Regions from separate parts of the Homo sapiens genome. Here region 2 is linked to region 1. Evidence: fine-mapped expression QTL. A gene starts in region 1. The other region holds a variant in brackets. All regions are shown on one strand. Distances are between the middles of the regions.

What was found. PIP is the estimated chance that this variant, and not a neighbour inherited with it, causes the effect. A credible set is the group of variants that fine-mapping cannot tell apart.
Region 2: its variant is the best candidate, but not a certain one, in a credible set for the expression of C2orf80 in cerebral cortex (GTEx, PIP 0.65).

The regions. Positions count from the first base shown.
Region 1 is chr2:208,186,822-208,192,209 of GRCh38, forward strand. It overlaps C2orf80 (chromosome 2 open reading frame 80), which reads right to left and starts at 3,209. Exons shown (of 9, transcript NM_001099334.3): 1 at 3,132-3,209; 2 at 125-240. The coding sequence starts at 165.
Region 2 is chr2:208,165,517-208,170,904 of GRCh38, forward strand. It overlaps C2orf80 (chromosome 2 open reading frame 80), which reads right to left. Exons shown (of 9, transcript NM_001099334.3): 9 at 1-299. The coding sequence ends at 291. Among named protein-coding and RNA genes, the nearest start is that of CRYGA, 4.6 kb to the left of the region's middle. The variant G/A (reference allele first, on the strand shown) is at 2,747.

The sequences.
Region 1 (5,388 bases):
TTCTCCTACCATGCAGAAATAGATTCTTAGATTTTTACCCACTGCCAATACCCAAGCCATCTATGACATGAAATCCACCGAATGCCAAGTGTCATAAATGAAAGTTATTCTCAGTCATACTTACAAGAGCTTTTTCATTTCCTTCTTTATGAGCCTTCTTTCCATGTTAAAGGCTTAGCCAGCTGAGCAGGTATCTGCAGCTAACACTACACTTAGACCCAGCTTCTCTGAGTCTAGAGGCTACAGCAGCAAATCAGAGAGAATATGAGTTAGGGATGCTATCACTCCAAATACCAGTCATGGAGTCCTAGGCTCTGGAAGGGATCTGAGGGAGCACCTCATTCAGGCCTCTTACTCGGCAGGTTCAGGGTCAAAAAGCCACCTGGAGGCTCATGCACTGTACTTTTGTGTTTATTTGACACCTTTTATTCCTTCCAAATTTTTCCAACACTTATTTACTTAATTTACTCTTCCTTGCAATAATCTAGCAAGTAAAACCAAAATGGTTTGTGTAATAGCTGATGAGACTATTCGGGCAGAACCATCCAAACTAGATGGATGTGATCCATCTAGATCTGAATGTGTTTGGGTTTTTCTGTGAGCATTCAACTCCCAGTGAGTTCACCCTGGCTCAGTGGCTCATAATGGAGTTTTCCATAGAATCCATCTACACTCTCCTATTGCCAGGAGATCCTTGAAAGAAAATATGGTTATGGGAAATATGTCTTCAATTCCCACCCCCACATTGAACCAGAAATTGAAGATCAGGTGATGGGGTCAAAAGGAGTCTGAAGTCACCAAAAAGGAGTCTATAGAAAATCATCACTATTGAATGGGGTACACAGGGAGAGGTATAAATAGGGTATCAACTCTATTTGTGATGTTTTATTTATTTTTAAATTTATTTTATGGTTGGGCCTCTATGATCAAATAGTTGTTCAAACTTTATCCCGGATGTTTCTGGTGTTTTTTTTTTAATGAGATTATCATTTAAATCAGTGGACTTTGAAAGCAGATTGCCCTCTATCTGAGTGAGCCTTTTCCAATCAGTCGAAAGCCTTGATAGAACAAAAGACTGACCTCCCCCATGCAAGAAGGAATCTGCCAGTAGGCAGCCTTTGGATTCAAACTGCAACTCTTCCCTGAGTCTGCTGGCAGCTGGCCTCCTCTATCAGATTTTGGACTGGCCAAGACTCCACAATCATGTGAGCCAATTCTGTAAAATCAAAATATTTGAAAGAGATGGTTAAGCCTATACTGCACCGTGTGTGTGTGTGTGTGTGTGTGTGTGTGTGTGTGTGTGTGTATCCACACACATCCTGTCAGTTCAATTTCTCTGAGGAACCCTAATACTCAAATATAACAAAATGTTAATAGTTGTTGACTCTGGAATTCTAAGTCCATGGATGTTCATTATACTACCCTTTGTACTTTTAAAATTGTACGTATATTTAAATCACTACTCTAAAGATGATTGGAAAACAAACTTTAGAAACGGTTTTTTGAAAATGGTACCATATAAACACTAAGCTTCACTTGATTCAGCTCTACCAACAGTAAGCAGAGAGCCAACAGGATGGCGCTGATCTAAATGAATGCTTCCCTAGGCCACCTTCATTATTTTGGATTTTTTTTTTTTTTTTGAGACGGAGTCTCGGTCTGTCACCAGGCTGGAGTGCAGTGGCACAATTTCGGTTCACTGCAACCTCTGCCTCCTGGGTTCAAGTGATTCTCCTGCCTCAGCCTCCCAAGTAGCTGGGACTACAGGTGCACGCCACCAAGCCCAGCTAATTGTTTTGTACTTTTAGTAGAGACCGGGTGGTGTCATCATATTGGCCAGGATGGTCTCCATCTCCTGACCTTGTAATCCACCTGCCTCAGCCTCCCAAAGTGCTGGGATTACAGGCGTGAGCCACCGTGCCCAGCCATTTTGGATCATTCTTGCTGCTGCTACATCTGCTTTAGTTTTTGGGGAGTGGACGGGATGTGGATAAGATGAAAGTGGGGAAGAAAGTAAGAGCATTTCACAGGAAATTGATTAAGTATCAAGACAATAATATTGCTCCCTACAGAGTCAATGGGGAGAGGATGCAGCAAGCCATAGAGGTGGCCCTATTGCCTAGAGAAGAGAGAGCACTGGACCCAGGAAAGCCACACTCATTGATGTGGCTGTGCGTCTTCTGCTTCCCAGCCTCAGGTGTTATCCGAAAAAGATGGGCCTGGTTAACATTGCCAAGAGCACTTCTTACCCTAACATTCTGTAACTCTATAAAGTCTGGCATGCATTAAAATTCTTCTGATTCAATAGTTTGGAAAAACATTTGTTGCTAGACTATTTGGCCTATCTCAATTCCTTGGCAGGGAGTAAGGCACAGTTAGCATGTGCTTTAATCCATTCTTGTCTTGTAATTCTGAGAAAGCCCTTTGAGTTTCAGATTTACAAGTTATAATATTTGCATTGCTTCGTTGTTATGACAGCTTCGTCTTAGATCATCCCTCATCCTCCCCATCCCCTGCCCCCACCACCACCATTCAATATGGTATAATATGCAAAGGTTTCAGTCTTTAAAATATGAGTATGTCCCACTCCCAAACCACTAAACTGTAGGTCAGAAGACCCTGTGAGGCCACCAACTAGCTGTGCACCTTGAACAAATTAATTTGCCTATGTTTTTTCATTTCTTCCTCTGTAAAACAAGCGTTGAATGATTGGAGAGGTCCCTTACAGCTGTGGAAGTCAGTGATTTATATGCATTTAGTAGCTACGCCTGGTCTAAAGAAGGCCATTTGCATGGATTCTAATTCAGCTAGATTTGAATTCTGCCAGTTATCCCTCTTCTCTGTCTATAGAGCTCTAAAGAAAACAAGACCGCTGTGTGTTTTGTGTGTGGCTGAAAGCACACACAAAAGAGGTACTGGAAAGATGTCAGCTGTCTCAGGCTTTAGCTGTTTCATAGAAACAATTCCCTAGAAGTCAGAGCCCCCAAATTCTATAGGAATATCATTTCCTGGAGAATATCTGCACATTCCATGCAGGTTCCCTGCTGCACACCTGCAATCGTGGTACAGGTCTCTCGGGCTGTTCTATTAAGTGCCTGCTCTTAACAAATTCCCCTTTGAGAATCGCTCACCAACCGGAGACCGGTTCCAGTGCTTTTGTTCTTTCTCTGCTTCTGGAGGCATGCTGAAGCATCCGCGCATCTCAGACTGGTGCTCACAGACATCAGGAACACATGCTTTTTCCTGGTTGCTAGGAAACAGTGAATGAATTAAAATCATTTGTTTTAAAAATACACTCCCCTACGCCCACCCCCATTAAGGGTTGAGGGAGGGTGGAAAGTCATATATTTGGGACAGGATTGTGATCCTGGCCTGAAGTTCACGTGTCTTTTTACCTGAGTAGGCTTATGTTTCCCATCTAAATGATTAATTGAAAAACCAAGAGGATGGGAGGAGTTTACCTTCCCCAGAGTTTTTTATAGCATTTGGCTGCAGACATAGGAATCAATTGACTAAGCAAGGATTGCTGGGGAAGCTAGTGAAACTCTGGCTCCTACATAGTTAGGGTGCCCCAAAGTACCCAATGACCCAAAGATCATTCTACTCGATGAATGTCAATACAAAACAGTGGCAATCCTGAAGAAACATCACCTGGGTTCAAGCTAGCACCATCTTTCTAATTATAGATGAGATCCCTTTCATGTGCGTCTGTGTGAAGAGACCACCAAACAGGCTTTGTGTGAGCAACATGGCTGTTTATTTCAACTGGGTGCAGGCGGGCTGAGTCCGAAAAGAGAGTCAGCAAAGGGTGGTGGATTATCATTAGTTCTTATAGGTTTTGGGATAGGCGGTGGAGTTAGGAGCAATGTTTTGTGGGCAGGGGGTGGATCTCACAAACTACATGCTCAAGGGTGGGGAGAATTACAAAGAACCTTCTTAAAGGTGGGGGAGATTACAAAGTACCTGCTTAAGCGGGGGGAGATTACAAAGCACATTGATCAGTTAGGGTGGGGAAGAAACAAATCACAATGGTGGAATGTCATCACTTAAGACTATTTTTACTTCTTTTGTGGATCTTCAGTTACTTTAGGCCATCTGGATGTATATGTGCAAGTCACAGGGGATGTGATGGCTTGGCTTGGGCTCAGAGGCCTGACAATCCCTGCCCACACGCCTGCCTCCTAGTCTTAAACACTTGCTCCCTTGCTTAAAGCTTGTTAATGGTTTCTGTCTGTGTCTCCTCTATACCACTAGACTAGGGGCAGAGTTTGTTCTTCTGGCCCATCTACGGCTGGGTGTCTGTTATTGACACCTCTTAATCTTTATTTCCACTCCTTTCCACTGGCCAAGTAAGTCACTTGATTACCTGAGGTCATATTATGAAAGACACTAACAAAACCCTAGATATAGAATTTTCTAAACTAGTTGTTCACTCCATATTGAGTTTATATTGTACCTAGACACTTCCGGGTTTGGTGAGCCTGAAGTTTATACATTATGGGGACCGTCTTTAATAAAAAGAATGCAGAATTGTAAATATGAAACTAATACAAAATTGTATGTTTATTTAGAACTATTAATTACAAGTTACAAATTTTAAAGAGCTGAAAAATACCACAAACAAAAAATCAGTATTAATATTTTCATGATTACTAACTGCCTAACATACACTAAAATTCCTTTTTTTCTTACATACTCTTTGATTATCTGTTAATAGGACCAAGGTTTCATAGTATTTTCTATAGAGAGAATTAAAAAATAATTCAGTCTCTCCTCTACTATGACTGTTTACTTTTATTTATTTATTTATTTATTCATTTTTTTGAGATGGAGTTTTGCTCTTGTTGCCCAGGCTGGAGTGCAATGGTGTGATCTTGGCTCACCACAACCTCCGCCTCCCGGATTCAAGCGATTCTCCTGCCTCAGCCTCTGGAGTAGCTGGGATTACAGGCATGCGCCACCACGCCCGGCTAACTTTGTATTTTTAGTAGAGACAGGGTTTCTCCATGTTGATGAGGCTGGTCTTGAACTCCCGACCTCAGGTGATCTGCCCGCCTCGGCCTCCCAAAGTGCTGGGATTACAGGCGTGAGCCACCGCACCCAGACAATTTTTTATTTTTTAATTAATTTTTTTTTTTGTAGCAATGAGGTCTCACTATGTTGCCCTGGCTGGTCTCAAACTCCTGGGCTCAAATGATCCATCTGCCTTGGCCTCCCAAAGTGCTGGGATGACAGGCATAAGCCACCACGCCCAGCCATTTTCAATTTATTCTAATATTTTGTTTATAATTAAAACTAAACTGTAGGCTGGGTGTGGTAGCTCATGCCTGTCATCCCAGCACTTTAGGAAGCTGAGGTGGGTAGATTGCCTGAGCCTAAGAGTTCAAG
Region 2 (5,388 bases), 21 kb before region 1:
AAAGCCAGCTTGCTCTAACACAGAAATACTATATACTTTCTGAATTCTCCAGCAGTCTTCCAGTCACAATGAAGTAGCATAAGGTCACAGTTTTTTTTTTTAAGAAAATGTAGCCATGCAATATGCTTCTAAAAGAAGAAAGCTCAACATCAAAAATAACACTTCAGTGCAGTTGTACCAAAAACAGTTGTAAAGAAAAATGTACTGGCAAGAGCTGTGGTTTTAAGATGATGCTTCTCGTCTGCTCCCAGAGAATCTATTATGAAGTTCCATGGTACAATTCCAATTTTCTAAGTGACCTGCAGAATAAAAGATGATTTTGGTATCAAGCACATCAATTTAACATGGACACAGACATTACTTTAAGTCTATAGGAAGTTAAGGTCAAATATCAGATACTAACTTACTGACAAAGATAGATTAGATTAATGTAATTACAAAGGAATTTTCATGGAATTATTCTGATATATTTGGAAATTGAGTTATATTTCCCAACTAAATGCAATATGTGATCCCATACTGGATCTTATACAGAAGGAAAAAAATGCTTAAAAAGAACATTATTGGGTCAATTGACAAAATTGGTGTATAGAGAGTACATTAAATAAAAGTACCAATAATAGATATTCTGAAGTTGATAACTATTCTATGGTTATTTAAGAGAATTACTTTGTTCTTAAGAAATACACACAGAGGTACATAGAGTAAAGTGGTAGAGTATATATACATAACTTCTAATGGCTCAGAAAAAAATTATATATCTTTATCTATATACAGAGAGACAAAGACAGAATATAATAAAGCTAACAGAACAAAACATTAACCATTCGTGACTGTATAAAAGGAATACGTGGGTTCTTTGTATATTATTCTTGCAAATTTTCTCTAAGTTTGAAATTATTTTTACATTAAAAAGTTATACTTCTCTTAACCAATCCTACCCAAAGCAAATCAGTTTTTGGCCTTTTAGCAGTTATGTATTATGCTTGTAGGATATTATTTTGAATTTCTGATGTATTGCTTTGGATTTAAATTTAAATTGTCCTCTCTCTATGTCTCATTTCCTTTCATGATAGCATGAATTTCTCATGAGTGGTGATGAAGAGAGCGATTATATTATTGCTTGCCACTGTCCTGACACTTTTTTTTTTTGAGACGGTGTCTCACTCTGTCACCCAGGCTGGAGTGCATGCAGTGGCGGGATCTCGGCTCACTGCAAGCTCCGCCTCCTGGGTTCATGCCATTCTCCTGCCTCAGCCTCCAAGTAGCTGGGACTACAGGCGCCACCACGCCCAACTAATTTTTTCTATTTTTTAGTAGAGATGGGGTTTCACCATGTTAGCCAGGATGGTCTTGATCTCCTGACCTCGTGATCCGCCCGCCTCGGCTTCCCAAAGTGCTGGGATTACAGGCGTGAGCCACCATGCCTGGCCTGTCCTGACACTTTTCTAAGCCTTTACACATATAACTTATTTAATGCTTATAACAACCCTATGAGGTAGGTACTATTATGACTTTTTAAAGAGATGAAAAACTAAAAGCACAGAGAGATTAGGTAACTCACTCAAGTTATTAAGTGGGTAGCCTGGATTCAAGAAGTATGCTGTATTCTAGCTCTTTAGTATGGTCGTGTTCATTCCAAATTTACTTCCTAGTAATGTGCCCACTACTGACGCTTTCCTAGGACAATGCAATTTAAAAAAAAAATCTTTAAAACTGTTTCCTAGCCGGGCGCGGTGGCTCATGCCTGTAATTCCAGCACTTTGGGAGGCTGAGGTGGGTGGATCACGAGGTCAGGAGTTCAAGACCAGGCTGACCAACATGGTGAAACCTCATCTTTACTAAAAATACAAAAATTAGCCAGGTGTGGTGGTGCACACCTGTAATCCCAGCTACTCAGGAGACTGAGACAGGAGAATCGCTTAAACCCGGGAAGCAGAGGTTGCAGTGAGCCGAGATAACACCACTGCACTCCAGCCTGGGCAACAAAGCAAGACTCTGTCTCAAAAAAAACAAAAAACAAACAAACAAAAAACTGTTTCCCAGAACACTGAGGGTTTTGTTTGTTTGTTTGTTCTGAGACAGAGTCTCGCTCTGTTGCCCAGGCTGGAGTGCGCTGGTGCAATCTCGGCTTAGTACAACCTCTGCCTCCTGGGTTCAAGCAATTCTCATGCCTCAGTCTCCCTAGTAGCTGGGATTATAGGCGTGCACCACCACACCCAGCTAATTTTTGTATTTTTAGTAGAGATGGGGTTTGCCATGTTGTTCAGGCTGGTCTTGAATGCCTGACCTCAAGTAATCTGCTCTCCTTGGCCTCCCAAAGTGCTGGAATTATAGGCATGAGCCATCGTGCCTGGCTGTGATTTTTTTTTTTTTAATAATTTCCTCTTTTCTCTTACTCTATGAAGAAATTCGGTGGCTGGAAATAAATAAAAAATTCTGAATAAGGCATTGTTTTATCTTGAGGTTAAAAAAATTGTTCTTCAGCTAAAAGACATATAATATCTGCAAGCCAAAAAGGAAAAACAGTAAGCTCAAATATTTAAAATGAAAATCTTCTTCAAATACCAAGCTGTGAAAGCATGTTTTTCATCCATTTAATAAAATACTTATTCCTTTAATATAGAAAGAATTCTAACAAACCAGTGAGACATACATATATGTATGTTTATATGTATATGTGTAGCAAATAATTAAATACCATAAGAAATATTAACAGTGGTTATTTCTGAAAAGTGGGACAGGG[G/A]TGTGAAGAAGAGGGAGTTCTTTTGCTTTTCATTTTATATTTTTTGTCTGGCTTGAAAATTTTACTTATAAGTGTGTACACTATTAAAATTTTTAAAACTAGTTTAAAAGATACATTACCCAAGAGTTGGGCCGGGCGCGGTGGCTCAAGCCTGTAATCCCAGCGCTTTGGGAGGCCAAGGCGGGCAGATCGCGAGGTCAGGAGATCGAGACCACGGTGAAACCCCGTCTCTACTAAAAATACAAAAAATTAGCCGGGCGTGGTGGCGGGCGCCTGTAGTCCCAGCTACTCGGGAGGCTGAGGCAGGAGAATGGCGTGAACCCGGGAGGCGGAGCTTGCAGTGAGCCAAGATTGCGCCACTGCACTCCAGCCTGGGCGACAGAGCAAGACTCCGTCTCAAAAAAAAAAAAAAAAAAGAGTTGGAAAAAATGCCTAAAGTGCACAAATAATAAAGTGTGAAAGAAAAAACACAAACGAGTTTTCTGTCGCTTGATTATTAAGAAAGGGCTTTTCTGGAAGGGATTCATCTCAGGACCTGGGGCCCTACTAAAACATGGGCATTTGTTCTTTCGACACTCCTGGGCTCGCAAGCATCAATCAGCCTATAGAAAGGTCTGGTCCCCAGAACTGAGCCTTTGATCACTATAGACAGGGCACAGAGATTTGAGAACCGTCACCTAAGGACTATTCGCTTACTACCTACTGCCAATTCACTAAATAAAAATTGTTACTGAATCTCTGCTGCCTGCGAAGTACTTTATATACATGTGAGAAATACTAAGGAAATAAAAGATATGCTTCCATCAAGAATCAAAAAATCTTCATTGGTTGTGGAAGAAAATATATATGGAACAAAATTATATTTAAAAATAAGATACCAATGAGTAATCTTTAGAGGTAGGTTTTCCTTACATAGGGTCCATTGATGAGGCTTGCGGGGGGTGTCTATAAACCCCTGTTTCAGAGATCTTTTTGTGTGTGTGTGTGATTAAGTTTAAAGTCTAGATTGTGTGTGTGTGTGTGTGTGTGTGTGATTTTTGGAGTTGTTACTGTTTTTTCATTGTTGTTTTGTTTTGCTCTCTAAAACTTGCTGCTTCCAAACACGTATAAAAAATGACCTCATTTTTCAAATTCTTCAAAAAATTCTTCAGAAACAAAGATATGGTTCTAGAAAGTCTAATACCTTCGGCCGGGCACAGTGGCTCACGCCTGTAATCCCAGCACTTTGGGGGGCTGAGGCAGGAGTTTGAGACCAGCCTGGACAACATGGTGAAACCCCACCTCTACTGAAAATACAAAAATTAGCCGGGTGTGGTGGTGCATACCTGTAATCCCAGCTACTCGGGAGGCTGAGGCAGGAGAATCGCTTGAACTCGGGAAGTGGAGGTTGCAGTAAGCTGAGATTGTGCCATTGCACTCGAGTGTGGGTGACAGAGTGAGACTCTGTCTCAAAAAAAAAAAAAAAAGGAAAAGAAAAAAAGAAAAGAAAATCTAATACCTTCAAATCTTATTATAGCAAATATGTTTGAAGGAAAATTGAATATGGTGATAATTTCCCCAAATAGTGCAGTTGTTCTGTTATCAGAATAACATTTATTAAAACCCTGATATGACCAAAGAATTCAATCAGTTCCTAAAGCAGTTGCTATGATAAGGTTACATTTCTAATTAATCAGATATAAGGGACAGAGAAGACAGTTTGCCTCTGAAATCTGAATAAATCCTAAGCCTCATGTAGTCCAGTCTATTCAGAGATTCAATTTAAAAATGCATGGTACAACAGCCAAACTAAATAAAAATAAAATTTAAATTGTCACTTGTTTCCTGATGCAAACCCAATCATAAGTCAGTATATCAGTTCTCAAAGTTCCCTTCCCCGTTTTCTACCTTACAGCCTTCCAGCATATCTAACATCTCTCATTCAACAAAACTCTAAAATATCCCAGAATCCCAGACACCCACCCTGTACCACTTTTCTGATTCTCTCCCCGCTCAGCTTTTATTCTGTTGATCAGAGAAGTCTCTCTGACTTCTTAAATTTTCTCTTCACTTTGCACATTACAGCTGAGAGCCCAGAGCTGGAAGAACAAAGAGCCCTCCTCCCTTTCTCCTTTCTTTCCAACCCTGTCCATCTCCGACCATTCTCTGAATTCCACCACAAATAAATCAGGAATCAGATGGACAGGGGAGGAGCAGGGGAGACTTTAAGCAGGAAAAAAGAAAATTATTATTGCTGAGAGAGGGATCAAGGATAGAAACATTTGGGATACAGAAATTAATACAAACTTTCTCCTCAACATGCTTATTTGCATCAACAGAGTAACAGCCAATTAACTTGTGGATAGTATTTTTCAAATGCTGAAAAGATAATAATAGCTAGTATTTATTTGGGGTTTACTCCATGCTAAGCACTGTTCTAACCTTTTAACATGAATAATCTCAGTTAATCACCCCAACAAGCTTAAGAGGTAGATATCATTATTCTTCCATTTTGCAGATGAGGAAACTAAGGCACAGAGAGTTTAAGTATCTTGCCTGATGTCCCATAGCTGGTAAGCAGTCGGCTCTAGATTCAAACCCAGAGCACCTGACTCCAAAGGCTAGACTTTTAACCACGGTATCAGGAAAGTACTCCCAAAATA